4 separate regions of the Homo sapiens genome follow, and all the other regions are linked to region 1. Evidence: fine-mapped expression QTL. A gene starts in region 1. Each other region holds a variant in brackets. All regions are shown on one strand. Distances are from middle to middle.

What was found.
Region 2: its variant is fine-mapped to the expression of AUTS2 in whole blood (INTERVAL, PIP 0.98).
Region 3: its variant is fine-mapped to the expression of AUTS2 in unexposed skin (GTEx, PIP 0.95).
Region 4: its variant is fine-mapped to the expression of AUTS2 in whole blood (INTERVAL, PIP 0.93).

Annotation. Positions count from the first base shown.
Region 1 is chr7:69,593,842-69,602,049 of GRCh38, forward strand. It overlaps AUTS2 (activator of transcription and developmental regulator AUTS2), which reads left to right and starts at 4,634. Exons shown (of 19, transcript NM_015570.4): 1 at 4,634-6,121. The coding sequence starts at 5,813. It overlaps CT66 (cancer/testis associated transcript 66), which reads right to left and starts at 3,783. Exons shown (of 3, transcript NR_148927.1): 1 at 3,206-3,783; 2 at 2,814-2,850; 3 at 963-2,592. RefSeq lists enhancers at 3,804-3,883, 5,064-5,113 and silencers at 4,194-4,613, 4,634-4,713, 5,878-5,947.
Region 2 is chr7:69,280,498-69,288,705 of GRCh38, forward strand. It overlaps LOC105375345 (a long non-coding RNA gene), which reads right to left. Exons shown (of 4, transcript XR_927650.3): 3 at 5,653-5,811; 4 at 2,457-2,673. Among named protein-coding and RNA genes, the nearest start is that of CT66, 310 kb to the right of the region's middle. The variant G/GATAT (reference allele first, on the strand shown) is at 4,777.
Region 3 is chr7:70,593,814-70,601,813 of GRCh38, forward strand. All of the region lies in intron 5 of AUTS2 (activator of transcription and developmental regulator AUTS2), which reads left to right. It overlaps LOC124901668 (a long non-coding RNA gene), which reads right to left and starts at 1,735. Exons shown (of 2, transcript XR_007060375.1): 1 at 1,309-1,735. RefSeq lists an enhancer at 2,272-2,773 and a silencer at 2,343-2,542. The variant A/G (reference allele first, on the strand shown) is at 3,461.
Region 4 is chr7:70,574,541-70,582,540 of GRCh38, forward strand. The region is part of intron 5 of AUTS2 (activator of transcription and developmental regulator AUTS2); the gene reads left to right. Among named protein-coding and RNA genes, the nearest start is that of GALNT17, 550 kb to the right of the region's middle. The variant GT/G (reference allele first, on the strand shown) is at 3,268.

The sequences.
Region 1 (8,208 bases):
AATCATTGATTCAAATAAAAGCACAACTGAAGAGGCTCTCCTGAGTTAAGTAGTTTATTCCTGAACACAGATGTAACTTTTTCCCTTTGTATTTTCCAGAACCACTTGACTGTTTTCCCTACTATACAAGCAACCTATTTTGGAATTATTTCTTTAGCTTTACTCTTTATCAACTATAATCTTTTGGGCAAAGAATTCACCTAAGCTTTTGCTGGTATGAATTATGAGTTCATTCATACTGGCCATTTCAAGTTTAAGCTTTAACTTTCATGCTACCCAGTAAGAAATCTGATAATATGCTATATAATTCATCTTGGTTTACTATATGGTATTCCATTGTACAGCAAATGTATTGTAGGATTCCATTTATATGAAGTACAAAAACAGACAAAAATCATTTATGCTATTAAAAGTCAGGATAGTGGTTACCCTTGATAGGGAGGTGATGACTAAGAGTGGGCACAAATTTGGCAAATAGTATTGTATGAATAAACCACATCTTTTTTTTTTTTTTTTATTTTAAGTTCTGGGATGCATGTCCAGAACGTGCAGGTTTGTTACATAGGTATACATGTGCCATGATGGTTTGCTGCACCTGTCAACCCATCATCTAGGTTTTAAGCTGCGCAAGCATTAGGTATTTGTCCTAATGCTCTCCCTCCCCTTGCCCCCCACCCCTCAACAGGCCCCAGTGTGTGATGTTCCCCTCCCTGTGTCCATGTGTTCTCATTGTTCAACTCCCACTTATGAGTGAGAACATGCGGTGTTTGATTTTCTGTTCCTGTGTTAGTTTGCTGAGAATGATGGCTTCCAGCTTCATTTATGTCCCAAATAAACCACATCTTATTTATCTATTTTACTATTCATAAGCATTGGGTAGTGTCATTAATAATAAAAAAAAACGAAGTATTATATAGGTACTCATATGTACACAAGCAATACTCATATGCATTTATATATACACAGCATTTTAAAGCTTTTTATTGAAGCATAATTTACATACACAGAGATGCATATATCAATAGTACAGCTCAATGAATTTTCACAAACTGAACACACCAGTACCCAGCTCAAGAAACAACACTACCAGCTCCCCAGAAGCCGATTGGTGTTCTCTCCTAGTCATCAGCTCTCTCTCAAGGGTAACCACTATCCTGACTTTGAATAGCATCAATGACTTTTGTCTGTTTCTGTACTTCACATAAATGGAGTCCCGCAATTGTACATCTCCCTTTTTTCACTTAGCACATTTGTAAGGTTCATATATTTTACTGCATTTGGAAGCAGATTGTTCATTCTTAGTGTGGTAGAATGTACTCTGTTGTATGAATATACCACCAATTATTTATCTATTTTACTGTTTATGACCATTTGGGTTGTTTCCTGGTTGGGGGTTATTTATGAATAGGGTTGCTCTGAGTGATTTAATAGTCTTTTGGCACACATGGGACATTGGTATATTCCTAAGCGTGGAACTGCTGGGCCATAGGGTTTTCATATGTTTAACTTTAACAGATATTGCCAGTTTTCCAAAGTGGTTGTACTATATACCTAGCATTTGACTTCCTGAGGAATCATTCTAAGAAGGGCATTTCAGCATAACCATTAAGAGAACAGGTTTTGGAGTCACTCAGATCAAATTTAGCTTATGACTAAGGAGTGGAGGCACCTTGGACAATATGCTTAACTTTAAGCCTCAGTTTACTCAACTGTAAAATAGGAATAATAAAACTTTTCTCAAAATTTATGAGAATTAAATGAGATATTATTTTAATGCAGTTAGAACAGTGCCTGAAACATAATAAATGCTTAGCTTATTATATGGCAGTTATTAATCGCTAGCAGTTAAAACACAGGCAAAATGGAGAATTAGAAACAAATATGGGCAATATAATCCAGAAACAATTTTAATTGTATGACTGAAGAAACCTAAGAAACTCTGACCCAAAAGGCATTGCTAATTCCAGGGAAGATTATATTGAATGCTGAACATTATCCCAAAATGCGTTTGCAAATTACCCTCACCAGAGGCAAGGTTCTTGGATGCAGTGTATTATCATTCATTTTTTTTTCCAGTTATTACTCTTTAAAGACAGGACTGCCAAGGGCTACTCTAGAAAGTCACTAATATAATACCTTTTATTATATTTCCCAATTTCACACCTTCCTCAACCCAATCCCCAAAGTTGTTGAAAGGTGACTGTAATTGCATCGTTAGTTCTTAGCTTTCCTGGAATCTTATCTAAGACAACTTTCACATCCCCCAAAACCCTAAAAATAAGCCCAGATTTTTGCTTTAAATTGCGAAGAACTTGCTTTATTTTGTAGGATGAGCTTGATAACCTCAGCGTGGATTTCAGCAGCTGCCGGAAACAGCACTCTAGAAGTTAACACAGGTACGCTCCGTACTGAGGCACTGTTTTAGCTAACTGCTCCAGGGACAGCAGGCTCAGTCCTCTTAGGTAAGTAATTTTGGAAGGTGGCACTGTGTTCCTAATAAATTGAATCAGATCCCTTAGGTTAGTCACTATTCTTAAGAAATAAAGCACGAAATCAACTTGAAGTCATCTGTTGAGAAGGCCGTGGATAGACCTGAAAAGGAACATTTTGAACATTTAATTGAACCTCTTTGATTTACAGATGAAAAAACTAGTCATTTAAAAAAGTCTTGCCTAAGGTCAAATGTTTTGTTTCCTGGACTGGCATAAAGCTCATCTGTCACAGTCGGGTGGATGTTCCTTTCTGTTCCTGGCAACTTGACCCCCCCGTCCCCCCAACCCCATCTCTCCATCTGATTTCATAAAGATCCAGACCTGGGATTCAGAAACGGGGAAGCTGAAGGAGTGTGACCTAAAACAAGAGAAAGACAAGCTATTAAATTGTTATTAGGAATTATAAGACGAGAGAGGCTTGCCTGCTAGAACGTCAAGAAGCAGTATCTTTTCTGTTTTGTACAACGCTGTATTCCCAGCACCTACAACTGTGCCTGCTAAGCCTGGTAAGGCCTAATAATTGTTAAATGAAAAACAATCAATCACTCAATCATAGATGTGTCAGATTGTGAGAGAAAACACGTCCTTACTGTTTTCTCTACCACCCTCCTTCCAGTAATACTAATAAAATGTGCACATTTGTATTCTAAAGAGGTGAAATCATATACACAGCGCTCTAGCACGGTGCCTGGCCCATTGTAATTAATACATGCCAGTTTATTTTCCTTTTCTTCCTCCACAAGTATGGGCTACTAGGGAGGACGAAGGGTTGGTGCCGTGGTGTTTATGTGCCTGGACAGAAAGTGAAGCGTATCCAAGAGGCTGCTGAGAGCGGGCTGTCGGTCTTTCTGATCCGTATAGATCAATTCCAGTGCCCTGAAAAACGCACAGCTATTTTACCCAGAGAGGCTGGTCGCTTTTGTTGATCGATTCTCGGCTGCAGTCAGCTCTTTAATACAACTTTTTATGAGCATCAGCCACATTGCGGCGGGAGGAGGGGCTGTGGTGGAAAAAGCAGGGAAACCGCCCCCCACTCCCAAAAAGTAAAGGAAGCCCGCGGGGCAGGGACTGCGGTTTGCCGGTCTAACGGGTCCTCGAGCTGGGGCGGCGGTCCCGGCCCCTTCGGCCCCGCCCCTCGCCCGCGGCCGCCTCCGAGGTTCAAGTTCGGCCCCCGGCTGTTAGGCCTCGCGCTCCCGGATCTGAAGCCGCCCGTGCGTCCCTAGGTCCCCCGCTGGAAGACGAGGCGGGAATCCCAGGGGTCATCCGGGCGCGGGGTCGCTCGTCCACGCACTGTGGTGCCACGTGGAGGAAAAGTTTCCAACTCTGCCAGTTGGTGCTCCCACTGCGCCCAGGCGGAGCAAAGGCCCGCGCTTTGGCACCCGCTCCCCGTTCTGTCTCCTCCAGTCGCGCCCCCTCCCAGGGACGCCCCCCTTGTACCCCTTCTCTGAATTCCCTTCTCTCCTCGCAGCGCAGGTAGCCAAGGGAAAACACCCTTGGGGGCTGGTGGGGCTTCCCGAGAAGGCGGCCTCGGGCCGGCCAGGGGTAGAGGATCCAGGGACAAGTGTCCCGAGGAGGATGTGGGGGGCGCGCGCGCGAAGTGGCCTGGGAGCAGGGGCCCACACGCGTCCCCGCTGCGACAGGCGGGATCCTCCGGCGGCTTCCACGCCCTGGCGCGCCAACTCTGCCCGGCCGCGGCCGACCCCACGCGGGCGCCCCCTCCACGCCCCCGCCCCCGCCCCCCTCACAGCTCCCCACCGCCCCCAGTGCGCAGGCCCGGCCGCCCCAGCGCGCATGCCCTGGGCTCGCGAGCGCGGCCAGCCCCCAGCCTTTTGCTTTCTACACACTCTACAACTGGGGAGGGGGCGGGGGAGGAGGGAGCCCAGCCGTCCACGTGATCCCGCCGGCCGGGGCCGCGGGGGCGGGAGCGCGCGCCGAGAGAGGCGCGGGGAGGGCGGGTGCGCGGGAGCGCGCGCACTCGAGCGAGCGAGCGAAAGCACGAACGAGCGAGCGAGCGAGCGAGCGAGCGGGCGGGCGCGGGGTTGGGCTGAGGCGGGCGGCGGCGGCGGCGGCGGCGGTGGGCTGGCCGCGGAGGGGGAGGAGCGGGAGCTGCGCGAGGCAGGCGGGCGGGCGGAGGATGGGGCAGTGCCCGGGCTCCCGCTGCAGCCGCCCGGGGACACGCCGTGCACCCTCCGGCTCGGGGCTTTCTCGGCGGCGGCGGCGGCAGCAGCAGCAGCGTTAGCGGCGGCGGCGAGAGCAGCGTTCCCGGCTGCGCTTCTCCCTCAGGCGGGGCGGCGAGAGAAGCGGCGGCGGCGGCGGCGGCACACCGGTGTCTCTCCCGCTGGAGATTTCTTTCTGCTTTCCTCATCGACTGACTGACTCACCCCCTCCCTTTTTTGAGGAAGGGTGACCTCTTCTCTGGGACTGGAAAAAATATTTTTGTGAGGAGGGGGGCGGGTGGCAGCGACAGGGTTTGCTTCTTCTCTTCTTTCATCTCCCTCTCCTCCCCCCTCGAAGACCGAAAAGCAAACCCCACAACTGCTCCAGCAGCATCCTCCTTCCCTTCCTCCGCCTCCCTTCTCCTCCGCCGCTCGCAGTTTCGCCCTCTCTTCCGCTAATGATTGCATTATTATGCTCCCCTCTCTGGGGGGTCTCGCCCCTCTTGGGTCGCTCCGGAGCCCCGGCCTCCCCTGGCTGCATTTCTTAAAAATTTGGGAGCCTGGGAGTGAGTTTTCTCCGAGGCGTGTGTGAGAGGCGGCGGGGGTGTTTTCCTGCGCGAGGGGCGGGTGAAGTTCATTGCCCCCACTTTTCCCGCGACCTTTTTCGGACCCGATTTTGGATCGAGTTGAGGGGGGCGCGGGCGTTTTCGGGGGGCGGGGGGCGCGGCGGAGAATGGCCGCGGGGAGGGCTCCCCGGAGCCTCCCAGTCTCTTGATCAAAGCATTCCGCTATTCTGATTTATTGCTTGCTTGGTGAGTTATTTTTTTTTCCTCTAAAGGAGACCTGTGTGTTCAGCCATTACTTTGCTCGGCGCTGCTCCCAGGCATCTCCGACCCTCGGTGCTGTGGGGAGCCCCACACTTGGGCTCCTCGCCTCTCGCCCTCGCTCCCCGTCCCTCCTCCCCTCTCTCCGCCCCTTCCCCCTTTTCTTTCTCCTCTCTTTCTTCCCCTCTCTCCCTTCTTTCGGCCGCCGTCTCCCCCGCGCCCTCCTCGGGGCGGAGGGAAGCCGTGAAGGGGGAGGGAGGGCTCGGTGTCAATTTTTTTTTGTGTGGCTGCGGCCGTAGCCTGTGGCGGGCAAGCGGGGAGACCCCGGCGCAGCAGAACCATGGATGGCCCGACGCGGGGCCATGGACTCCGCAAAAAGCGGCGGTCGCGGTCGCAGCGAGACCGGGAGAGGCGCTCCCGGGGCGGGCTGGGGGCCGGCGCGGCCGGCGGCGGCGGGGCTGGCCGGACCCGGGCGCTCTCACTCGCCTCGTCGTCGGGCTCCGACAAGGAAGACAATGGGAAGCCCCCGTCCTCCGCCCCGTCCCGGCCCAGACCCCCGCGGAGGAAGCGGAGAGAGTCCACCTCGGCAGAAGAGGACATCATTGATGGATTTGCCATGACCAGCTTTGTCACTTTTGAAGCGCTGGAGGTAAGGGGGACCCCCCTTCCCCCGGGTTCCCTTTATGCACGACCCCACTCGGCTGCGCCCGGCTCTCCTGCCTCCCTCGCCGCGCTCCGGGCTGTCTGTCTGTCTGTCTGTCTGTCTGTCTGTCTAGGCTGAGGTCTTATTGTTGGTGGGGGGAGCTGGGGGCGCGGGCAGACAGGCAGCAGGAGGGAGTCGCAAAGCCGTGCCTGGTCTCGTTTCCTCGCTCGCCTTTCCCCTGCGCCCCCTCCCTGCACCCCCTCCACAGCAGATGGGCAGAAAGAAAGGGGTTCGGGCATCACAACAATGCGCCCCCTCTCCACAGAGAGCTCTGCCCCCACTCCTTCCTCCTCTCCCTCCCCAATCATGGCTTCTTGGCTGGTGGAAGTCTCTTTGCTGGGTTTGGGGCGCCTGTGGACGGTTCTGTGTGCTTTCTACAGAGTCATATGTTCGTGTGTGTGTGTGTGTGTGTGTGTGTGTGTGTGTCTGTGTAGTATATACCTTTCCCGGGTGTCCTCGGGACTGGAGACTGATGGGGTTTTGTGATTTCTTTGCGCCTCCCCCCATTACCCCCCCATATTCTTTTTTTTTTTTTTTTTTTGGTGAAGCTGGGGAAGGGGGCGTTTTCTCCTGGTTGGGAGAAAGGAGGGAGGAGGGGAGAGAAGAGGGAAGGGTGGAATAGCTCTCTGTATTCTGTATGGGGTTCTGTTACAGAAAGGGTTAATTATAATATTATCTATACACATACATAGGCACATGTGTGTGTGTACATGAGCAATTTAGTTAAAGGACAGAAAAAGGTACACCAGGGAAGACTGGTGGGAGGGAAGAATAAAATCCTAGCTGCTATCTGAAGGGCTTGTCACCAATTGTCCCTCTCCCTTTCCTTTTTTGTGTTTTCTTTTTTTTCTTTCTAAGTGATTGGCTTTGTGTGTGTCTATGTGTGTGTCTTTCTTTATTCCTTGGGCACCTGCAGCGTTGATTTTCAAATGCACATTTTCCTTCCAGCCAACTGGCTCCTAGGGTAGGGGGAAAGGGAAAAGGGAGGGAGGGGGAGACTGTCCAGGGTTGGGGGGAAACTGTCTTTGCCTGGACCTGTCTCCTTTGGTGTGGTATTGGTCATTGGCCTCTATAAATTTAACCGCCTAATTTCCTCCCCCACCTCCCTGTCCCCACCCCCCACACACCATGCACACACACACAGAAGGCTTTGAGATTCTGCAGAGTTGGTCCACCTTTCTTAAGCACAAAACCAAGATACGGTTTATAGTTGGCTTATAGTGTTTCATGCACCTGATGTGATGGTTTGAGGTTCCTGAAGGAAACTTTTCCCTTTCCATTTTTTTTTTTGCGTTATTATGGTATTGTTTCACATGCTCAGATGCAAGCTTTGTTAATGACAGCTTAAATCTCACATACGGTAACTGTACAGGTTTAGATTGCTGGTTCTGTTTATGTGTTTGGGTGTCAGCTTTAAATATTTTTTTCAAAGGAAGGCTTCCTATCAGTGTTGTCCTTTTCTGTGTGAACTGCTTTTGGTTTGGGCTGCTGGTGGTGATGGTGGTGGATGGTGGCCAGTGGTTGGGAGTAAGGGAGGTATTGGTGGTGGTGGTGGTGGTGCAGGTGGTGGTGATGGTGATGTTGGTGGTATTGGTGGTGGTCGTAGATTTTGATGTTAGTGATTGAATCAGTTACTCTCTGGTTCTAGAATTGGTGCTTTATTGGCCAAAATTTTGAGTGTTGAGGTTCACCACTTATTAGAATAATTCCAACTGTGGCTTTAAGTTTGCCAAGGTGGGTGGTGGTTACCATACAGTGTGACCTCTTTCTGTCTCTCTCTCTTGTTTTAAAATAGGAGTTGAAATGGCAGCATGTTCCTATTAGAACATGCTGCTTGGAATTTGGTTCATCATTGCTGTCTGTGGTTGTTTTGGAAAGTACTTGTAAGAGCTGGTTACAAGTGGTTCTGCTTTCTGCATGGTTATCCTGAGCTCAGCAATCAAGAGGGGCCACTGGATTCCCACGAACATTTTTGGAGGACAAGTAGGGATATATGTGTGTGTGTATATATATATATATATATATGTGTGTGT
Region 2 (8,208 bases), 310 kb before region 1:
GTTCCCCAATCCATTCATTCTCCCTAGTAATCCCCTCAACAGAATTCTTCTCCCTGCTCCTTTTCCATAACCTGTTTTACCAGGATCCAGGCCTCCATTCTTTCTGTAACCTCAAAATGGTCTATAAGCTTCTGGTCTTCAACTCCTGACCTCAAGCAATCCTCCTGCCTGGGCCTCCCAAAGTGCTAGGATTACAAGCATGAGCCATTGTGCCCTGCCAAGATGGCATACAATCTTCTGTAACTCACTGGGGTGTTGGGTCTTTATTCTGAAGGCCCTTGTGTATACATGTTAAATAAATTTGTATGCCTTTTCTCCTAGTAATCAATCTGCCTTATGTCAGTGATTTTCAATAAACCTTTAGGGGGATAAAGCCTTTGTAAAGGCTGGTGGATCTGCCTAAATCTCTTCCACCATAGAGCAGCCTGGATCACTCACTCACCTCCATTTAGGCTTTCCTCAAATGTCACTTTCTAAGCAAGGCCTAGCTTGTCTACCATATTTAAAACTGCACCTCACCCCTGTACTCCTGTTACCCTCCTGTGCTTTTTATGTTACCCAGAATAATTTGTTATACATGAATTTATTTACTATATGTATTGTATTTTATATTATATATTAAATAATATATCTTTATTACATTTATCATATTATAAAAATGTATTATATTTATACTTATTGTTTTAAGTGGAGATTTATTCTCTCTCCACTAACTCAGTAAGCTCCTTGTGAATGGGAATCTTTATTTTGCTCACAGACATATTCCAATGATATGTTTTCGCTGTGTCCCCACCCAAATCTCATGTTGAATTGTAGCTCCTGTAATTCCCATGTGTCATGGGAAGGGCCCAATGGAAGGTAATTGAATCATGGGGATGGGTCTTTCCCATACTGTTCTCATGGTAGTGAACAAGTCTCAAGAGATCTGATGGTTTTATAAAGGGGAGTTTCCCTGCACAAGCTCTCTCTTGCCTGCCGCCATGTGAGACATGCCTTTCACCTTCTGCCATGATTGTGAAGCCTCCCCAGCCATGTAGAACTGTGAGTCCATTAAACCTCTTTTTCTTTATAAATTACCCAGTCTCAGGTATGTCTTTATCAGCAGCATGAGAGCAGACTAATACACCCAAGCACCTAAACTGGTACCTGATGCATAGAAGATGCTCAGTAAGTATTTGTGGACTAATGAATAAATGTGTGAATGGATGGGATATATGTCTTCAGCCCTAGCTGATGCTTTGTGCATCATAGGCGTTTAATTATTGCTTACTGAAGGGAAAAGCTCCACAATCAGATCCAGTTCACGTTCTTGATGACAGCAGCCCTGGAAAAACCAGTGTTTGCTATGATCTCATTCTTCCTGCTTGAATTTTTATTCTTAGAGACAGGGTCTTTCTGTGTCACCCAAGCTGGAGTGCAGTGGTGCAATCATAGCTTACTGCAGCCTCCAACTCCTGGGCTCAAGCAATCCTCCCACCTCAGTCTCCCAAGTAGCTAGGAATACAGGCGTATACCACCACACCTGGCTAATTTTTAAAAATTTATTTAGAGACGAGGTCTCACTACGTTGCCCAGGCTGATCGTCAATGCCTGGGCTCAAGCGATCCTCCCACCTCAGCCTCCCAAAACACTGGAATTATACAGGTGTGAGCCATCTTGCCCAGCCCTCCGTTTGCATTTTTAGGTCTAAACCACAGTCATGGACCCTGTGAGGTATAATCACGATGAAGGGGAGTTCAGAGCTCACCAGGATCCCTGGCCTCACATCCCCTCTAGTCAGCAATAGGTGAGCCCATTTCCTCTCTACTTGCCCTACCCTGGGGACCCTCCTCCTGCAGACAAGGACACCAGCTCTCAATCATCAGTCTAGTCTTGCTCCTTATCCTGCTCTGAGGAACAGAGAGGCCAGTGTGGCTGGAGCACAGTGAGTGAGAGAACCAGGGATTGGAGACACCAGTGGAACCCACATGATGCATGGCCTTGGAGTCATGCAGAGAAGTCTGGGATTGTCTAAAAGCAAGGGGAGCCTGGCGCAGTGGCTCCCACCTATAATCCCAACACTTTGAGAGGCCAAGATGGGAGGATCACTTGAGGCTAGGAGTTTGAGACCAGCCTGGGCAACATAGTGAGACCCTGTGTTTACAAAAAAAAAAAAATAATAAATTAGCTGGGCATGGTGGCACATGCCTGTAGTCTCAGGTACTCTAGAGGCTGAGGTGAGAGGATCACTTGAGTCCAGGAGTTCGAGGCTGCAGTGAGCTATGATCACACCACTGCACTCTAGCCTGGGCCACAGAGCAAGACCTTGTCTCTAAAATAAATAAATAAATAAAAATAAAAGTAAGGGGAAGTTGATGAGAATAATAAGCAAAATAATAGCTAGCCATTGTATTTATAGCAAGGTGCATATGTTTACTAAGACTTATATGTATAGTAAATTAACATTAACTATCAGGTATTGTTATAAGTACTTTATTTACACCAAATCAATTCTCAAAAATTTGTGTGAGGTAGGTACCATTGTCCCCATCTTACAGCCGAGGAAACTGAGGCACAGGGAGGTTAAGGAGCTTGCCAAGCTCACAGAGCCTGTAGGAGGTGGAAGCCGGAATTCAAATCCAGGCCATCTGGTTTTTCAGTTCCTGTAGGAAGCACTGGGCTGTAATGTATTTCCTGCCGAGGATTGCACAAAAAAAGAATTATTTGGACTTTAGCAGGAAGGTGGATTGGGGAGGGGTGAGCAATGGAAATAACAGATTAATTGAGAGGTCTTTATAGAATTCAGGTAGGAGATGTTGGTGGTGGACATAGGGTGGTAGCAATGAAAAACAGAGAAAAATGAACAGATTTAAGATACATTTGCGATTTGGGAAGAATGAAAGCTGATTCCTAGCTTTTGAGCTTGAGCAACTAAGTAGATCGCCATGCCTTTGATGACACAGGAACAGGCTTGGAGGTGGAAAGTCCCCAGAACCCAGTATCCTTGCCCTTGGATAGTCTCTGAGCCCATGTCAATCCCGCAGCCACATGCTAGAGAAAGCCTAGCACACGGGTGCCAAGGTTAGCCTGCACTGGTGAGCCCATGCCAAGAACCACAAAAGCCTCATTTTCTTTAAAACACAGGGCTTGGCTGAATTCCCCACCTAGACAGAGGCAAGCGCATTACTTCATCTTGTGAGCTGCATTACAGCCTCTGTTTTCGTGTATCTATTAGCGAGGCCTCTCAGCCGAAAATCCAGCCAGCCCATCAATCACTCCTCCCGGAGGCCCACAAACCAGGCAGCAGAGGCCGAAATCCCAGTAGGCATCTGTCAGCATTTGCCCATGGGACCAGGCCCCAAAGACTTCCCTGTTTATGCATAGGAGGTCTTGTTTCTTTATATTTTTAATTAAAAGCAGATTTTTATCAATCCCCCCACAAAATCTATTGGGGGAACTTTAATTTTGCTTCCAATCTCCCTATTTAATACTCCCCTAGTGCCCATAAAAAGCTGTGGTGTTTCAGTTCATGATTTGAATCTTTACAGATAATTAGTTGGCAGAACGACTTGGAGAGAGAAGCAGGTATATATTTTCACGACTTGGTCAGGAGTGGGTGGGAAAGTGGTGGGAGAAGCATCCCCAGGCAGTCTTGGCACATTTTGGCTCATGAAACATCAACAGCAATTCATTTAAAGACATGTTCATTTAGGTTCTTTGGCTGCTGCCATAAAAAGTGCTTTTCCCCCTTATTTCTGGCATGTCTTTATTAGAACACCTCTAGGCTCTTCCACCTTCGACTCCCCTTTCACCGTCTGTAATCATTTGACTTAACCTGCTCCCGCCACCTCAGCCTGGCCCTGAACCTGCAATCTTCTTCTCTGCAATTGTCTTTCCTGCAATGCGCTTTTCTCCTGCCTTCTCCACCTCCTCCCTCTTGATCAGCTTGCACCTCACAGTCCCCTCCTTCCCCTCCTGTCCCCCATTCCTTCCCCTTTCAGGCTCAACTGCTATTCCCATTAACTGACCACGTTGTGTGTGGGTCAGAAGATTTGTTGGAACAAATGTACTCACCAAAGCCTGATGAGAATCTTGTGAAATGACAGTTTTACACACACACACAACAACATCTGTACTCGCTCACCCCCACTCACACACATGCTTCTTTGACATCTGAAGAATCTGAGGCTCCTAGAGGTTACAAATTTTACTCAAGTCCTTTTCCCCCTCTTTCCCTTCCTTTTCACTCTCCATTATCCTTCATCTCAGTTAAAAAAAATATGTACGCTGGGTGCAGTGGCTCACGCCTGTAATCCCAGCACTTTGGGAGGCTGAGGGGGACGGATCACCCTGAGTTCAGGAGTTTAAGACCAGCTTAGCCAACATGGCAAAACCCCATCTCTACTAAAAATATAAACATTATCCGGGCGTGGTGGTGCATGCCTGTAATCCCAGCTACTCAGGAAAATGATTTGAACCTGGGAGGCGGAGGTTGCAGTGAGCCAAGATCGCACCAGTGTACTCCAGCCTAGCCTGAGCAACAGAGTGAGACTCTGTCTCAAAAAAACAAAATGCAAATACATGAATAGATACACATACAGACATATAGGTAGACGGTCAAAGAGACAGGTACACAGAGGGACAGACAGACTGACAGAAGGTCATACACGAGGATAGTTACATAAATAGAAGAAAGGTAGACAAACACAGATAGATGATAGATAATAGATAGATGATATACAGATAGATAAATAGATGATAGATAGATAGATAGATAGATAGATAGATAGATAGATA[G/GATAT]ATAGAGACAGATAGAGAGATGATTTGGCTCTGTGTCCCCACCCAAATCTCACTTTGAAGTGTAATTCCCATAATCTCCACATGTCAAGGGCAGGACCAGGTGGAGGTAATTGAATCATGGGGGCAGCTTTCCCCATGCTGTTCTCGTGACAATGAGTGAGTCTCACAAGATCTGATGGTTTTATAAGCATCTTGCATTTCCCCTGCTTTCACTCATTCTCTCTCCTGCCGCCCTGTGAAGAGGTGCCTTCCACCATGATTGTAAGTTTCCTGAGGCCTCCCCAGCCATGTGGAGCTGTAAGTCAATTAATCTTCTTTTCTTTATAAATTAACCAGTCTCGGGCATTTCTTCATAGCAGCTTGAGGACAGACTAATATAGATAGATAGATAGATAGATAGATAGATAGATAGATAGATAGATAGATGATAGATAGATGATACATATATACATACATGGATAGATACATAGATATGATAGATAAATGAGAAAGAGACTGCAATAGCTGGCAAAAATCAACCAAATATCCCCTCCATCTTTTGTCCTTTTTCACATGAAGCTCTCCCATTTGCATTTCTTACTCTACTTCTTCTCCTGTAATCTTCTGCTAGGTGGAATTGTAACTTGATGAAAACTCCATGAGGTAGATTTTAAAGACTGGGAACAATAAGAAGTAGCTAAGAGGGCTGTGTGGTGGCCCAGGTGTCAATCACAACAAATGAGCCAGGGGTGAGAAAGCTCTTCCTTTGTAAACAGTCAGATGAGCCAGGGGGTGGGAAAGCTCTTCCTTTGTAAACAGTCAGGTTCTCACATGTGGGAGGGTGTCAGATCAATTCATAATTCAACAGGGTTTAATGTGCAAGGGGAGGTGCCTTACCATGCATTTGAATTACCCAGAGGACTTCTTAACCCACAGATTGTTAAGCTCTACCCCAAGAGTTTCTGCTTCCACAGATCTGGGTAGGGCCTGAGAATTCACATTTTCTGGATAATGCTGATTGTTGCTGGTCCAGGGACCTCACTTGGAGAACTGCTGCTGTAAAATAATTTTTCAGAGGCTATTTTGGCTACTATGTTGATGTTCAATCATGTCCCTTTTAATTAAATCCTATTATTCAGCATATTTGAAAATGAAGGGCCAGGTGCAGTGGCTCACGCCTGAAATCCCAACACTTTGGGAGGCCGAGGCAATCAGATCACTTGAGGGCAGGAGTTCGAGACCAGCCTGGCCAACATGATGAAACCCCATCTCTACTAAAAATACAAAAATTAGCCGAGCGTGGTGGTGCACACCTGTAATCCCAGCTACTTGGGAAGCTGAGGCAGGAGAATCGCTTGAACCCAGGAGGTGGAGGTTGCGGTGAGCTGAAATCGTGTCATTGCACTCCGGCCCGGGCAACAAGAGTGAAAGTCCTTCTCAAAAAAAAAAAAAAAAAAAAAGGAAAAAGAAAAAGAAAGAAAATTTTGTTTAATACACCCCTAGGCTTCCAAGTTACCAGATCTTTTGGGCCTGAATCAAGAGATGGTTTGACCCTCCCCACAACATCACATTCAAAATCATTCCTCTCAACAGGACAAAATTGGCAGGGAGCCAGTGCAAAATGAAAATGTAGGACCTCTTATTTAAAAATGATTACGAATTTCAAGACAGCGATAGCAGAGCATCAACCAAGTGCCTGACCCTGTGCGACTGTGTAGGTTGCACCCAACCAGTGTTGCTAGACGGAGCTGATAGACCCAACATTCTTGTCCCACTCTGGGGAAGTTCTGTTCTTGTCCAGCATTTTGTGCATGGGATTAAGGGGTGGTCCTTGGGTCCACAGTCTTCCTGGGAGTTCATCAGCTCCAGTACAAACAGTCCTTGCCCTCCATTCATGAGGGGCTCATTTGAAACTGCATCCCACAGGGCTCTCCCTGATCTGATTAAAAACTCAAGGCAGGTGGGTAGAAGAAGAGGCCTCCTAGGAATTTCTCTCTTTTTTCTTTTCTTTTCTTTCTTTTTTTTTTTTTTTTTTTAGACAGAGTCTTACTCTGTCACCCAGGCTGGACTGCAGTGGCACAATCTCAGCTCATTGCAACCTCCACCTCCTGGGTTCAAGTGATTCTTCTGCCTCAGCCTCCTGAGTAGCTGAGACTACAGGCATGCACCACCACACCCGGCAAATCTTTGTATTTTTAGCAGAGACGGGTTTTCACCATGTTGGCCAGGCGGTCTTGAACTCCTGACCTTAAGTGATTCCCCTGCCTCGGCCTCCTAAAGTGCTGGGATTACAGATGTAAGCCACAATGCCTGGCCTCCCCTTAGGAATTTCTCACACTCGCTTCCTCCTCCTGAATGATTGCTAACTCCCTCCAACAGCCATGCGTGCATTTCCTTCCTTCCTTCCATCCTTCCTTCCTTCCTTCCTTCCTTTTTTTGAAATGGAACCTCACTCTTTCTCCCAGGCTGAAGTGCAGTGGAGTGATCATGGCTCACTGCAGCCTTGAATTCCTGGGCTCAAGTGATCCTCCTGCCTCAGCCTCCTGAGTAGCTGGGACTACAGGCATGTGCCACCACACCTGGGTAATTTTTCATTTAAGTTTTTGTAGAGCTAGGGAGTGGCTGTGTTGCCCAGGCTGGTCTTAAACTCCTGGTCGCAAGCAATCCTCCCGCCTCAGCCTCCCAAAGTGCTGGGATTACAGGTGTAAGCCACCACGCCTGGCCTATCTAGCATCTTAAAATTGAATTGAACTGATTTCCAAGCAGATGCCCATGAACATGAGCATTTCCTGTTTGAAGGAAAGAGACAGCGAAGTCTTAAGAACCACACCCTGTTTCTAAAAATGGGTCAGCTCATTACTGGCAGGCATTCTCCGAGGTCTCGAGGGCAAAATAAGCCAAATACAAAATGGCTATTAACTTCCTGAAGTTTCAAACCAGCTGGGGAAATTAGAAAAACTAATAGAAAAATAGATCTTGCAACCCTGAAACCAAAGTAAATGAAAAAGTTTCGAGATGAAGTCCATCACAAGGGAGAGAGTTGCCTCCCCAGGACGGCGTCTCTCTAGAGGGACTGAGTTCCAAACCCCAGTGCAGAAAGGTTGTTAAGGAAAATCAAAGAAGGTTCTGGAATTTGGGTTGCATATTAAAATCACCTAGGGAGCTTTAAAAGGGAAAGACAAAACTGAACCCAGACACTACCACAGGCAATTTGATAAGGATTTTTACTCCATAACTTTTTAACATTTTAGATAGAAAATTTTAAGAACACACAATTTACAGAGATCACCATGATGAACCCTCATGTACCTCATCAAATATCAGTAACTCACAACTACGGATCAATCTTGTGTCAACCTCTGCTTCCACCCACTTCCCTCTCCACCCCAAAATAATAATTTTTTTTTTTTGAGATGGAGTTTCACTCTTGTTGCCCAGGCTAGAGTGCAGTGG
Region 3 (8,000 bases), 1.0 Mb after region 1:
CCACAGTCAGGACCAGTCACTTGAACAGCTCCCATTTCCCCAGAATGATTCTATAGAGAGGCAGGAGAACCCTGGACCCTGAGCAGGAGACTTCAGTCCAGGGGCCAGCAGCGCAAGCACAGCGTCATAGAACATCATAGAACATAGAACATTATTCTGCTCAGGGCAAAATAATGTGGGCTGCACAGTCTGGCCCAGGCAGCCCTCAGTGTTGTGCCCTCAAGTGTTGAGATGACAGGAGGATGGGGTCAGGCCAGTGATCCTCAAAGTCAGAAGAAGAATACTATGCCTCAATCCTACTCATTTCCTTTCCAAACTCTCCCTAGAGGGCCTCTAACTGTGGCTGAGGGGAGGGGCGGCACTTTTTGATACACGGTGCAACTTGCCCACTTTGACCCTGACCTTTGCTCTGTCCCCTTCAGGTGACCCTGGCAAGTAGCTTTTTAGAGCAGTGGTTCTCAAACTTGAGTGTGTGCAGAATCCCCTGGGGTTGGGGGGCAGGGCTTTGAAAATACAGATTGCTGGGCCCCACCCCTAGAGTTTCTGATACAGTGGCTCAGGGATGGGCCCAATAATTTACATTTCTGACATCTGGGTTCCTGGATGCTGCTAGTGGAGAGAACCGGTGATTTGATAGCATTGGTGAGCTGGCTCAACTCTCTGCTCAGGAAAGTGACAGGATGCCTCAAATGCTGAGTGCTGCGTATTCAAATTCCAAACACAAGGCAACTAGGATGGGAGCCCTTCTAGACTCTGTGTATTCAAGGACCAGGGAGAGGCTTAGCAGCTCTCAGCTCTCCTGGCACAGAGAGAGTTCTCTGAAGCTTGCTGTTTTTCTCTCTCCTACTTTGATAGTTTCCTCCATTTGTATGGGCGGAGGTTGCAAAGGCCAGAATAGACTCAGCGAGAGTGGGAGATGGGGGTGAGTGAGTGTGTTCACTTTTGATGAGGAGCAGATGTGACAAGCACTAAAATGGAGTGGGCAATAAGAATTATTACTAGCTGAGGCCGGGCACAGTCGCTCACACCTGTAATCCCAGCACTTTGGAAGGCCGAGGCGGGTGGATCACCTGAGGTCAGGAGTTCAAGACCAGCCTGACCAACATGGAGAAACCCTGCCTCTACTAAAAATACAAAATTAGTCGGGCGTGGTGGCACATGCCTGTAATCGCAGCTACTTGGGAAGCTAAGGCAGAAGAATTGCTTGAACCTGGGAGGCGGAGGCTGCAGTGAGCCGAGATTGCACCATTGCACTCCAGCCTGAACAAGAGTGAAACTGTCTCAAGAAAAAAAAAAAAGAATTATTACCAGCTGCTTTGTGGTCAGGATGTCCCAAGCTGGCACTGCAGCAACCGCTGTTAGGGGGCTTGGTGCCATTTGCAAGGATGTCATCCTCAGCCACTGGTTTCTAGGCAGCCCCTCCAGGAATTCCTCTTCCATGCACCTCCTTGGGCAGAGCGTTGAGGTGTGGTGGCTGAAATTCAGGAATTATTGTGGAAGCTTGAGTTTGCATGCCCACTCCGTTTCCTACTAACTAGCTCAGGGGCGGGGGAGTTTCTGAACTATGTTGGCATAGTTCAGAAACTTAATGTTTAAGTGTCTTAATGTATACGATGGAGATAATGCTCTCTGATTTACTGACCTCTCGGGTTGTGGGCTAGACACCAGAGTTTCAGAGTTCTCGGTGCACTGCTGTGTATTCCTGGGAATGCCCCTGAGGGTGGAGCTCTCTGTAAGGAAGGCAGCCCCAAGGGCAGGGCTGGTCTCTTTAGAAAGACTAGGAATGAGGACACCCGGCGTCCAGGCCTAGCTTTTCCACCCACTCACCTTCACAGCTCCTTCATCCTTTCTGCTTCAGTTCCCTCCTCTGTAACATGAAGTTGGAGTAGATACTTCATTCAGAGCATCTTCCGGCTGTAAATGGCTTGAGCCCATTGTCAACTGGAAGACAGAGTGTGACGTCTAAAAACCCAAACAGCAAAGAGCATCTCTTCCAAACCACCCAATCTGGAGAGGTGGGGCAGTTTTGTGGTTCCGGCACCGACACCGTCCCTTTCACACGGTACTGAGCCGCGGGCTGCTTCGGGGCGGCCCTCCCCGCCCCGTGCCTTGCCGGGATGGCAGAGCGGATCAGAAGCTGCGCGCGCTCTGCCTGCGCGCTTTGCCTGCGCGCTTTGCCGCCGCAACCCGCGCAGCAGCCAATCCGCTGGTGCACTGCAGGTGACCTCCCCCGGGCCCGGGAATAAATTGTCAAGTTTCCCCACCGTGGGTGTCTTTGCTAGCCGGCGAGTTGCAGTCTTCTGAGCTAATTAGGAGACGGTCATGAGGAGCGAGGCGGGCCGGGGCGCTCCGCGGGCCGGGGCGGGGCTGGGGCGGGCGGCGCGCAGCTCCTGGGCCGAGGCATCCGCGAGCCGCGGGTAGATCGCTCGCGTCTGATCGCCGCCCGGGAGCTCCCGCGGAGCCGGCTGCCAGGACTCGTTCCAGCTCCAGTGCGGGGCTGCCCGGGCGTCCAGAGGCGGCGGACGGCGTGCCGGCAAGTTTCCCCGGCACCTGCCAGTGCCCGCGAACCCACCTCGGAAGCCAGACCCGGGGAGGCAGAGGCAGAGGCCGGCTGGCTCCAGCCGTGGTACCGCACGGCTGCCACCCTCGGACTTCCGTCTTGAGTCTCCTGAGGCTGAGAAGCAGCAGATGCCGAACCTGCCCCCTGACGTGGACGTACACCTCAAGACCTAAAATGCGCCCTGCCTGGAGACTTTGAACTTAGTCTTCTGGAAATGCGGAGACCGCTTCGGGTGGTTTTGTTTTTGCATCCTCTTCGGCTAGGTTTGGCTTTGGGATTCTCTGGCTACCTGGATACGCCTTTCCTTTGTGGGCAAGTCTCCCGCGGATCGCAGCACCAGCAGCCAACCCTGGGGCACACCAGCCTTTAAAACCCCCGAGCCTGGAGACGCATGGAGCTAGAGAAGAGGACCCAACTCCTGACCACGTAAGGACTCTGATTCCACCTTTCCCGTGATGGAGAGAAATATAATTTCATGGCAGAATTTTCTTTAAGCACATTGTCTGATAGGATTGGCAATTACTAACCAGGAAAATGAGTAGCAATTAGGAGTTCAGTAATAAATGGAAGTCTATTGTCCTAATTGAGTGGAATTACTGACTGGTAATGGCAACACTGAATTCTTCAGTTTAATTAAGAGTTTATATAATTATAGTGCACTTTTTATTTCTTGGGGGAGCCATGGGGTAGGAATTAAATAACCAGTGTGATGGTTAAGAAACCCATTTAATGGGTAAGTAACCAATGAGTTGAAATGAATGTGAGTGCCTTGCTCAAGCAATGCAAACTTAGATGAATTCCTGATAAAGAGATGTAACAGCTTGGGCCAAGCAAGACTTTCAGCTGCTAATTCCTGTCTGATAAAAATCTGAACGGCTTAGAAATGATTGGGTAATCTCT[A/G]AAACTGGCACACTGAAACTGTTTTAGAGATACCAGAGCTCCCTCTCTCCTGCCGGGGTATTAACCCCGATTTGTGCTCTCTGTCGCTGTGTTTTCCACATTCTTCAAGAGTGAAACGAGTGGGTCATTTGAGAGTGCTTTTGCAGCCTGGGGTTTCTGTATGGAAAATCTTGTGATTGAGCTGTTGAGCTGTAAATGTTGATAGCTGAAGGGGATAGACAAGCTTCATCGAAGTTACTCAAATTCAAAGCAGAGTGAGTATGTAGGTGTGCAATTTGGGAACTAATCTGTAATTATAAAGATGTTATTTTCCTCTTTGGTGGTGTATTGTTTCCTTTACTATTATGTTCTCAAGAAATTGTTCCCCTTGTGGGAAGCAGTGAAATTGGAGAGAAATCCCTGCTCAGAGGATAATTACTTATATTTTTGGTGTAGGTTTCTGGGAATCCTTTTAACCCTACATTGGGATGCACATATTTATTTCCATAAGAAGCTCCAGCAGGTTTGGAAATCACTAGGTTTTGAATACACTGGTAGATAATTAGCACTTCAAGTAACAATATTTATGCCACTCTGTACCTTGACTTCTTTTTCTTGCTTACACGAGGTCTAGATTTTCAACAGGATGATCAGGGACTACCTTCTCTAGAGAGCTTGCATATTGCAAGTGGGTTCAGGGAGCACCATTATAGTTGCATTTCACTCCAGAAGAGACAGTGAGTGGCATGGAAGGGGCATTGCATCTTGAATACTGCATGCGTTTTAAAGTTTGCAGAGCTTATTCATAAATCCGCTTGGTTAATGAGAAAAAAGCAGGTATCGAAAGACGTTTGCTGTATGTGTGCCTCCCAGTCTCAGCCCTTCCAGGTGCTTTGCAGGTCCCTAAGTACAGAGTGTCACTGTCCAGAATTTTAAGGGCTTACCTACCCTGGTTTTTCCCCTCTCCCCTAGTCCTGTTTTGTCATTGCTACCATGAAAATCTAGCAAAAGTGTAGAAAGTTGTGTCCTTCCAGAACCACGGTTTCTCAGTGCAGGTTTACTGTATTGAGCGCCCACTCCTTTTCTGTTTGTATTCTGCCCAAGGCACAGCAGACATTCACTCCTTTTATTTCCCATGAAATTGTACAACAGGCAGAAGCTTGAAGATACAACACGGATGGAAATTTGAGCCTTGTAACGTTCAAAAATGACACAATTGCCAAGTTTCCTAACTTTTCCTAAGAGTTGATTAAAGATCACAACTTCATATCGCTCCTTTTTCCCTATGCATTTGCCGTCCATCACACACCTGACTGTGAGCTGTTGTAATAGCTAGATGAGGTTTAAAAAAAGAGGGAGTAGGGGCTCAAGGATTGCTGTCCTCTCAGAAATGTTGCCCAAGGCTACCCTAAGGCTCAGCCTACCCCCAGATTCTCTTTCTGACAAGTGGGTGTTTGGTAGGATGGTGTGAAAGTTTCCTTCTATGATAACATCTTTAAGATTTGTTTCCAAATTCCCTTTTTTTTCTTTTTGTAACCTGCTGAGAATATGAGTCTGTAACCTATGTATTTATCTGAAGTCAGCCTGAACAGATAGAAAAACTGAGTTACAAGGTATGGGACTCCCAGTAAATTAGGAACAGATGTGGGTCAAAAACAGATTTCCAAACTCTTTATCAAATGATCCCACTTGGAAACAAGACATGAACAGGCCTAACTACTCTTAAAATGCAAGGTTTGTCTGAGGGCAAACATGCTGGAAAAGATGGTGGCCACCACCCTGCCTCTACTTTTCTTTTCCTTTCATCTTTCTTCCCACCGTCTTTGGTTCCCTGCATAGGCTGTGTAGTGGGTATCAGTCAGCACTTGTCTGCTGGTTGCACAATGCAGATTACTCACTTCTGCCCAAGTAACTCCCTGAAGCCGTACTGTAACAATAGAGCATATAAAAAAGAAACTCAGGTTGATCTTGGCCCCTGTCCAAGGGGATTAGCTAGGGAGCACCTGAAAGGCCTGTGTTGAACACACTCACCTGTAACCCAGTTCCATGGCCTGGATCTCAAGGACAGGGTAATCTCAGTACCTTTTAATGACCTAGTAAATGTGGTATCTTTCTGTCTTTACACTCGACCTGATGGCTCATAGAGTCTCCTCATTATGGAGCTGGAGGAGTACTTTGAGGTCATCTAGGCCCTCACTACTCAAAGTGTGGACCATGGGTCAGCAGCATTGGTATCACCAAGGAGCCTGTTAGAAATGCTGAACCTCAGGTCCATCCCTGGATTTATAGAATCAGAATCTGCGACAGGTTCCCCAGATTTCTCATATGCATTATGACAGGTGGGGTTGTCCCATGATCCAACTCTGAGATGGAGTTTAGCCAGTGGCGTATTTATTAAGGAGTGCCCTTTGGATCAATACCTATGGGAAGGAGGAGGAAGGAACAGGAATAGGTAGGTAGAGCAAGAAGTCAAGCAGCAATACAGGCCCAGTGACAGTCATCACTCACAACACGGGAAGCTACACAGCTAGGTCAGCCTTCTAAGTTGTCTGTGGTGGGCAGGGATGGCCAGGCCTTTCAACTCACTGCAGACAGCACTCCCAGCAGTCAGCAGCAAGTCTGTCATTAGACAGGGATCTGGGTAGCTCATCACAGTGTCCACCACATGCACTGAAGTTGGGAGAAGCTCTATTCTGGGTCACTGGTTCTCAAAATGTGGCTGCATACCAACAGGACCTTCAGCACCCCGGGGACTCATTAGAGATGCACATTCCTGAGCCCCACCCACAGCTACTGAATCAGAAACTAGGGTGGGGCTCAGCAACCTGTGTTTTCACACGTTCTCCAAGTGAGTGCTGCATGCCCAAGTTTCAGAACCACTGCTCCAAGGCAGCCTTTTTTCTGTTTGTTTTGTTTTCTAATTGTTATTGAAATGATTCACAGTCCATCTTAATAATAAAATTCACCACTTTAAAGTGTACAATTCAGTAATTTTGTGGGGTTTTTAGGTTTTTTGTTTTGTTTTGTTTTGTTTTGTTTTTGAGACGAAGTCTTGCTCTGTTGCCCAGGCTGGAGTGCGGTGGTGCCATCTTGGCTTACTGCAACCTCTTATCTCCTGGGTCAAGGGATTCTCTCGCCTCAGCCTCCCGAGTAGCTGGGACTACAGGCGCCCGCCACCACTCCTGGCTAATTTTTGTATTTTTAGTAGAGACGGGGTTTTGCCATGTTGGCCAGACTGGTCTCAAACTCCTGACCTGAAGTGATCTGCCCACCTCAGCCTCCCAAAGTGCTGGGATTACAGGCACGGGCCACCGCGCCCGGCCCAATTCAGTAATTTTTAGTATATTTATAACCTGTTTAGTATATTTGCAACCCTCGCCTTTACTTCCAGAACATTTTCATTATCCCCAAAAGAGATCCCACACCCATTAGCAATCACTCTCTGCACCCCCTCCCAAAGTCTGGCAGCCACTCATCTGCTTTCTGTCACTGTGAATTTGCCTGTTCTTGATACTTTATTTAACTTGAGTAATGCAGTATGTGGCTTTTGTCTTGTTTCTTAACGTTTTGAGAGTCAGCCAAGCTGTAACATGTATCAGTACTCCATTTCCTTCATGGGACAAATCATATTCCATTATTTAGACAGTACCACATTTTGTTTCTTTATTCATCCATTGATGGTCATGGGTTCTTTCTACTGTTTGGTTATTGTGAATAATGCTGCTGTGAACATTGGTGTACAAGTTTCTGTATGGACATATTTCTTCAATTCTCTTGGGTCAATACCTAGGAGTTGCTCAGTCATATGTTAACTCTATGTTTCACTTTTTGAGGAACTCCCAGACTGTTTTCCAAAGTGACTGTACCATTTGACATTCTTACAAGCAGTTTATGAGAGTTCCAGTTTCTCCGTATTATCTCCAACACTTGTTAATATCTGTCCTTTTTATTATAGCCATTCTAGTGAATGTGAAGTGGTATCTCAGTGTAGTTTTAGTTTGCATTTCCCTAATGACTAATGATGTTGAACATAGTTTTCATGTTTTCATTGGCTATTTGTACATCTGCTATGGAGAAATGTCTATTCAGATCCTTCTTAGGGCAGCTCTTTTTGTTCCTTAAGGAATCCCTCAGTATGTCAGCTTTGTGTCCAGTCCTGTGCAGGTGTTTTAGGATTTATGAAACAAAGCCTACAACCTGTGGCCATTACCCACTGGAAAGTTCTAATCAGATGTGAAACTGTCTAAAAAGGGGAAAGGAGGACAGGAGAGCCCACTGTCGAGGGTTAGCATGAAGAGATTCACATTCTATTACAATTCGTGCTTCAGAAAGACACGGTGTGACTTGCTAGGATAGAGTGGTGTGTGTCAGGGATGTGGCGGCTGCAGACTGCTGGAGAAGACTGGGAATGTTGAGAGGAAGAGGAACAAGTAGAGAAGCGGGGACAGGAAGTTGTGGGCAGACCTTCTAGTATTCTTTTATGGGTTACACACACCTGTAAGAGGGGATCTCAGGAGCCCAAGATTTCTTTCAAGATCATGACCTTCACCAGCCTCAGCAA
Region 4 (8,000 bases), 980 kb after region 1:
TGTTTTGCTCTTAGCACCAGAAGTTTGGGCTTTTCCATTAAAATCAGTCAATCAGGAAAGAGTGCATGCATGCTGGGTTTTAACTTTAACACAGGCTGGGTTTCAACTTTCATGGTGAATTAGGACTGTCTCCTGCCATTCTCCCTTGGCTTGCTGCACTGTAGAAAACTGTGAAAGGAGCCACTAACTAGGGCAGACCACTGGCCCAATTTGAACAGGACTGCTTTGTTTTAGCTGGACCTAGAGGTTTAAATCACAAGACGGCTACTGGATTCCCTTCTCCCCGACCCCCTCATGGCCACCACCACTAGCCCTCTGTAGGAGGAGAACTTCACTGAGCACCTGATTACCTGTTCTCGCTTTAGGATTAGATCAAGATAGGACAGAGAGGTTGTTCATTTGTAGGCTTGTTGCCTTACTGTAGGAGTAGTTGGATTGAGTCAAGCCATCCTTTTCCTTGGGAAACAGGCCCCTGCCGCTTTAAGTGGAGTTGCTGGGTAATCGTTCCGCTCGGTTGCATAACCAGAAAGGGATGTGTCAGGACTGGGACCTGCAGACAGCGAAGGCTTTATTAAAACGCTCGCAGAGACCTAGACAGATGAGTGGTCTCCAGTTGGAGTTCTTTCCATCTTCCCCATCTGTTCACTGCAGTTTTAATTAAATCTACTGAGATTATTTTTGGCCTTCTCCAGGAACAGAAAGCCAGCCTGTGCCAATGTCCACTCGTTTCTGTGCTTTACTGCCAGCCACTAATGAGCAGGCACATGGGGCACCCCTGCCTGTGTGCACCCCCTTCCTTTGCCAGCCATCATGAGTTGCTAATAGGGTAGGAACTAAAAGTGCCAAGCCCAGGCCTCTCCACCTTCTCCCACCTCCACCCCCACCCTCAGCCCCACCTTGGTGCTAAAGAAAGCCAGCTAACGAATGATTCCACTTGTGGTTAGCTAGCTAATGGGAATGACAGGCTTCAAATAACCTTAAAGCATGCAGCCCCAATGCTTGTCTGTCTGATCAGGGCCCTTCTGCTGGCACCTGACACTTTCAATACCATAATGGCATTCACATGCATTCTTTTTGAATGCTGTCATATAGCAAGACCTTTCTTCTCTTCGTTTGCTGGGAGGATGCCTGGCAAAGCTATTAAGTCTGTGATGGGAATGACAGTTAACTGCGGGCCTGTCAGTCCCACTTTGGAAGTCAGCACATCCTTATACCCATTAGGAGCATATCATAGGAACTTCAGAAATAACCTGCTGCAAGATACCATCAGGTTGTTGCGCTGCCTGCAAACATACCACCCAACGAGCTTTGCACATCATTCTGCCCTGCCTCTCATTAAGGGTCTGGTTTGTTGATATTTGGTAGATATTTGATTTCTGAATTTCAGATTGGGACATAGTAATTACTTCTGGAAGGTAGCATGGCTGTCCCCAGGTAGTTGGCAGGTGGTGGTTCTTCCTATTTATGGTCAGTGCTTCATGGATTTGAGGACTTCTGTTAGTTGGGTTTCCAAGAGAAGTTGTGTCTTGGAATCCATTTCCCTAATTGACCCCCTAGGTTTCCAAAGCAGACTCTAGGCAGATGTACATTTTTTATTGCACTTGAGTCCCAAATTCTGGCCTAATCACCAACACCAGTGCACTGGGCAGGACTGTGAGTGAGCCTCAGTTTCCCCTCTTGCCCCAAGTTCAAGGCCTACAAGAGACCCATCTGAGTGGCCCACCCTCCTCTGCGCTCCCTAAGAAGGAAAGGGGTCAAAGAGAGGGATCCGAGTGGTCCAGAGCAACTGCTGCCCCTGCTGAGCTGTGTTTATAACTTCTCATTCCTCCCACTGATAGTCTCACCCCTCCACAGTGATCCCTTGCTCTGTTCTTGAAGACTCCATTTTCATTGACCCATATCAGCACTTGCATTTTGGGGTTGATGTTGTGGAACCTAAACAATTAGAAGGTTGGACTTAGAGCTTTTAGAGTCTTGATTTGTCCATACATACAGCTTGACTTTCTGCTAAGACACACGCTTCCACTCCTAACCAGCAACCGAGAATCAACATCTTCTGTGTAATTTCCAGGAAATGCCTTTCAAACTCACTGCCATTAGGTAGCTCTCCAAACTTCACTTAGAGGAACAATGTTTTAGAAGGATTCCAAAAATAGGAATAAGTGCAGTCCTTTTTCTCTAGATTGGCATTTTCTGAAATGTTTCCTGGAATAGTCTTTTCGTAATATATTAATAGACGCCACTAGGATAAAGGATTTTGTTTGAAAAGTGTTGGATTAGATCAAATTAAGCAAAGCAGTGGAGAGGGCAATATTATGCTGTGTTTACCAAACAGCTTTGACCACAGAACACCTAGGAACATTTCATAGATCCCTTGGAACACAGTTTGGGAAATGCTACTCCAGAGGATCTGGAGTAAGACAAACCAGCAGAGAACCAGAGTTAGCCTTTCTGGTATTCCAGTTTAGAACAGCACCATATGCTCTGCAGATAGAGGCTCTAATAACCCTATGACACCAATGCCAGGACTTTTGAATGAATGAGTAGAAAAAAATATTATTTAGTGTGCTATGTGTTGTTTTGCTTATGTAGATCCTTGGGAGAAATAACACTCTGATTGCAGAGTTACGAATAATTGAGCCTTTTTTGAAGAGTTGGTTTTCCTTTTATCTTGCAACCCCCATGAACTGTGCAACTGCTTAGCTTCCCATCATCACCGTGGCTGCTGGAAGCCTAGAGCCAGCTTCCTGGCCCATCTGTTATAAATAAGTGGTTAAGTGATGGGCAGACTTCATTTCCATCTCCACTGTGCATACCCACATGGTTTATTTTTCCTTCTTTTCTACCAATAATTTTAAAAATCCTCCCCCCTCCCTGTTATCTTTTAAAGGTACCCTAAATCCTTTTGGTCCTTTAAGGTACTTTAAATCCTTTATCCTTTTGGTCCTTTAAGGTAACTTAAATCCTTCGGTGTAGGGAATATGTAAGTGATACATAACATTACCTGTTACCAGTCTTAGCTACTTAATTGATAAATTGACATTGGCTTGTCTGAGATTATTGTCATTTTGGGTTGATCAACAAGGTTGATGAGCAGTTGATGTATAGCCACAGCTACGGCAACAGTTTCTTAGTTTCAGAACATACCATGTGTTTTGTCTGGAGACTCTCTAATCACTGAAACATGAAAACAATTTACTAAGCTATGTTTTTTTCCCCAACTGTGGCAACATCATAAAGCATTTTTGTTCATATGTGTTTTATTGG[GT/G]TTTTTTTTAATTTTTTTCTTTATTTTTTTTTTATTTTTTGAGATGGAGTCTTGCTCTGTCGCCCAGGCTGGAGTGCAGTGGCGTGATCTCAGCTCACTGCAAGCTCCGCCTCCCAGGTTCACGCCATTCTCCTGCCTCAGCCTCCTGAGTAGCTGGGACTACAGGCGCCCGCCACCACGCCCGGCTAATTTTTTGTATTTTTAGTAGAGACGGGGTTTCACCATGCTAGCTAGGATGGTCTCAGTCTCCTGAACTTGTGATCTGCCCGCCTCGGCCTCTCAAAGTGCTGGGATTACAGGCGTGAGCCACCGCACCTGGCCTTTTGTCCATATGTGTTTTGTCCTCAGTAGATTCCTAGTAGAATATGAAAATAATTTGCAGAAGATATCCTAGAAAGTTAGAGCTAAAAGGGACCTTAAAGATCATCTAGTCTAGAGATGGCAAATAAGTTTCGATTGTCCTGCTATCTATGGTTTGTTAGTTGGCTGCCTGGAGGCTTGTATTGAAGATTCTGGGCCATGAAGGCATCAAAGGCTAAATCGATTAGTGATGTCTGCCATGAGCATGGCATGAAGGCAAGGAAGTGTGCATGCTGCACATTTTCTGTCCCTAGTTTCTCCCTTTTGACCAATGAAATCACCTGAGACAGAGGTGGCACTAGAAATCACGTCTTTATTCTAAGTCCAGGACTCTTTGTAACCCCATCTTGCTGAAGTAATTATTTTTCTTCCAACTATAAACGTTAGTAAACTAGAGCACCAAAACAATATGCTTCTTCTAGATTTGCCATTGAGTTCACTGTAAAGTGAAATACAAAACCAAGAATCAGTCCCCCTCTTCATTATTTTTCCCAACTTCTGATATAGTTGAGGAACGAGGCCTATTCTATACTGGGACCTACCCAAATTTTTCTTGTTTATACTTAGCCATATTATCATGATTTGGTTTTTTTTAATTAAGACTGTTTTGGTAAGACATATTCTCCAGCAAATTCATTTTCCCTGGGTCCTTCTTTGGTTAAGCATGTTGCTAGCTATAGCCAAACCAACAGGTCTAAGATGCCTAAGTTATATTATCTTTTCTTTTCTTCTTTCCTTTCTTTCTTTTTTTTTCTTTCTTTTTTTTTTTTTGAGAAACAGAGTCTCCCTCCTTTGCCCAGGTTGGAGTGGTGCAGTGGTGCGATCATGGCTCACTGCAGCCTCAACCTCCCCAGGGTTCAGGTGATCCTCCCACCTCAGCCTCTCGAATAGTTGGGATTACAGGCACATGCCACCACACCTGGCTAATTTTTGTTTTTTTAGTAGAAACAGGGTTTCACCATGTTGGCCAGGCTGGTCTCAAACTCCTGAGCTAAAGCAATCCACCCATCTCGGCCTCCACAAGTGTTGAGGTTGCAGGCATGAGCCATCATGCCCAGCCTTATATTCTCTTTTCTAAAAAAAAAAAAAAAAAAGATGAAGGGAGGAACATTTTAGAAAAATCAAGTTAGGCAGCTTTGCTATCTCAGTATGCAATGCTGAGAAGTGTCACTTTAACAGACTTAATCCTTTCAAATAATAATTCAAATGAAATTGAGATGAACAGTTTGGCTCTTAAGGACTTTTTTTCTTGAGACAATGGGATTCTTTTTTCTAAGCAATTAATTTGCTAATAAAAAAAATGGTGCTGCCCTGTTCCTTATTTGCTTTATTTCATGAGAAATCAGGTTGGCAATCTTGTTCACATATTTACCCATGGAACATTCCATTCCATCTCCTTCAATGCTGAAGACATGGGTTTCAAGCCTACCCTGCCCAGGGATAAGACAGAGCAGGTGCAATTAATAAACCATCTTTTCAAGCTTTCCTTCCAGTGGTTTGTAGACTGCTTTCTCCTGACATGAGTCAAGCTATTTAATGTGATGGAATTCATCTTGTAAGGCTCTCTCCATTCAGGCTAAGTGATTGAATTCACAATTCCTCTGATTTAGTGCCTCGTTTGTCACTTTCTTGAGGAGAGGTTTTTGGACCCATTTAGTTGGGAGATTGGCTGGAGCAGGAAGTCGGGGAGAATCTGCCCCTAAGCCACCATTTCCTTCCACTTCAAACATGATTCATAATCAGTCTGGAAGAAGCAGGAAGATAGAGGATGACCAACTGCTCTGAGAAGCAGGCTGCTGTGAAGTTGATTACGTTTGCAGGACAGCCTCTAAGATGTCTTCGAGGCCAGGACACAGACCCTCTAGAAGCCAGCCATTTTAGCCACTTGGGGCTCCACAACACAGTGCCTTCGAACGTAACCAGCACTGACTCGGTGGTGTGCACTGGGCCTCAAAGCACATTCCCGTCTCTTATCATTCAGTAGCCCAGTGCCAATTAGAGTGGACGTACTAGACGGTTTCACTCTTGCAACCCTGAAACAGTGGAGTTTCAGGGCTGAAAGCCAGTCTGACTTCATCCTGACCTTCAGCTATGCACATGTGCCCTGCGCTGTAGCGTGGCTGCCTGCTGAATGGGAATGGGGTAGGTGTGCTTGTCCCAGCATCATTGACATTCCAGGAGGCTGCTTCCTGCCGGTCCTCCCCCTCACCAGGTACCATGTTTCCTATTAGTTCTTCAGGAAGGAAGGCAGGTCAAAAGGGTGGATGAAGTAGGTCAGAAAGAGGGCAGTCTCTAGTAGGAGGGGACACAGACTTATTTACTGGTAGGAATTCTCTCCTGTGGAAAAACAGTTCCGAATTCAGCCTCAGGATACAAGCCCCACCTCTGGAGGTGCTCAGGCCATGAGGGCTGCAGCTGCAGGTCTTCTGTTCGTCAACCTTTTTCTCTTGAGCTGAACACACCAGACTCCCTGCAGAATTGCTTGGGTGTGCAGGGAGAGTCAGGTTATTTTTTAATTGAAAAAGACATTTTTTCTTGAGAACATGGGAACACTACAAACCTTCAAGGCAAATGGAAGAACAAATAGATGTTCCAGTGTCTAGGCCCAGAACAGGAAGTTTTACGTTGTGTTTAACAGATACGACAGGATTTGCAGAGGAACTTTAAAGGAGCCCAGGAGTCCGCTGAAAATGTATTTAAAGTTTTGTTTGTGTGCTTGTGCATTTGCCTCAGAAGATGGTTCTTGGCTTTCATCAGATTTTCAAATAGAATCTGTAACCAAAAAAATAGTTGAGGCTGGGTGTGGTGGCCCATACCTGTAATCCCAGCACTTTGGGAGGCCAAGACAGGAGGATCACTTGAGGCCAGGAGTTTGAAGCTAGCCTGGACAACCCAGTGAGACTCCTTTGCTTCAAAAAAAATTTTAAAATAAGGCCGGGCGTAGTGGCTCACGCTTGTAATACCAGTACTTTGGGAGGCCGAGGCGGGCAGATCACCTGAGGTCGGGAGTTCGAGACCAGCCTGACCAACGTGGTGAAACCCCCATCTCTACTAAAAATACAAAAAAATTTGCCGGGCATGGTGGCTCATGCCTGTAATCCCAGCTACTCGGGAGGCTGAGGCAGGAAAATTGCTTGAAACTGGGAGGCGGAGGTTGTGGTGAGCCGAGATTGCGCCATTGCATTCCAGCCTGGGCAAGAAGAGCGAAACTCCGTCTCAATAAATAAATAAATAAATAAATTAGCCGGGTGCGATGGCATGTGCCTATAGTCCCGGCTACTCAGGAGGCTGAGGTGGGAGGATCGCTTAAGCCAGTGAGTTCTAGGCTATGATTGCACCACTGCATTCCAACCTGAGCAACCTCCAACCTGTTTCAAAGAAAAAAAAATGTTGAGATTCATTGGGCTCTTAACCAGAGACTAACTATGCACACGCCACTTTGGAAATGTATGCTGTTTGTTACCCACCACAGTACTCTCACCCACCTGACCCCTTCTCCCTATCCAACCTTAGCCTTAACCAAGAACAGACCTGGTTCCTAGTAAGCCATGTTTCCATTCACCAAGGTTTGGGGAGCCTTCCCTGACTATAAAAGAGACTCTGCTATCACTTTTATTTCATCTTAATTCAGGCATTTTTTTAATGTGGTGTAGTTGACTTGTTTCTAAATTCCTTTACATTTTGTATTGTTCACACAGTAAAAATGTCTATTTTACCATTCCCCATTCTAATTTTTCATCATTTAGTCAAAGGTGGGGCCAAAATTGAGCTTTAGTCTATGTATAGTAAGGTTTTGTTTCATTTTGTTTTGTTTTCTTTCAACCAGAAGAATAAAATCAGAATTTTAGAGCTTGTCTTACCCAACCCACTTTTTTTTTTTTTTTTTTAACCAGAGATGTTAAGTCGTTTTTCAAGGTCAAACATCTAGTTGGTAGTAGAGGTAATGAGTTGTTTTATTCTTTGCTCTTATCGAAGAAAGGAAATTATAGAATTAATGGAATTTTATGAAGTTGGGGGTTTTCTTTATCGTTATCATTAAAAGAACGCAGTGTGGTTTTATGAAAGCCTCACACAGGCTGTCTTCTCAGCCCTTTTCAGACCCGCACTCTTTCCTCCATCCACATCCTCTCCCTTCTCCCCAGCCCCAACCCTTCCTTCCACGTCAAGCTGAGTATACAAAGCATCCCATATTTCAGGCTGAGGCCTACGGAGTGGGTTCCCACTGGACCCTCTAGCAGCCTGCATTCTCCGACTTGAATGGCTGCATGTGGAGAGTATGTATATTTGTTCAGAGCTCTTGCTTTAAGTTACCCCTTCCCACCACGTTGCCCAAAGAAATAGGAATGTGAGGGGAAAAGGAAAGGAAAAATAC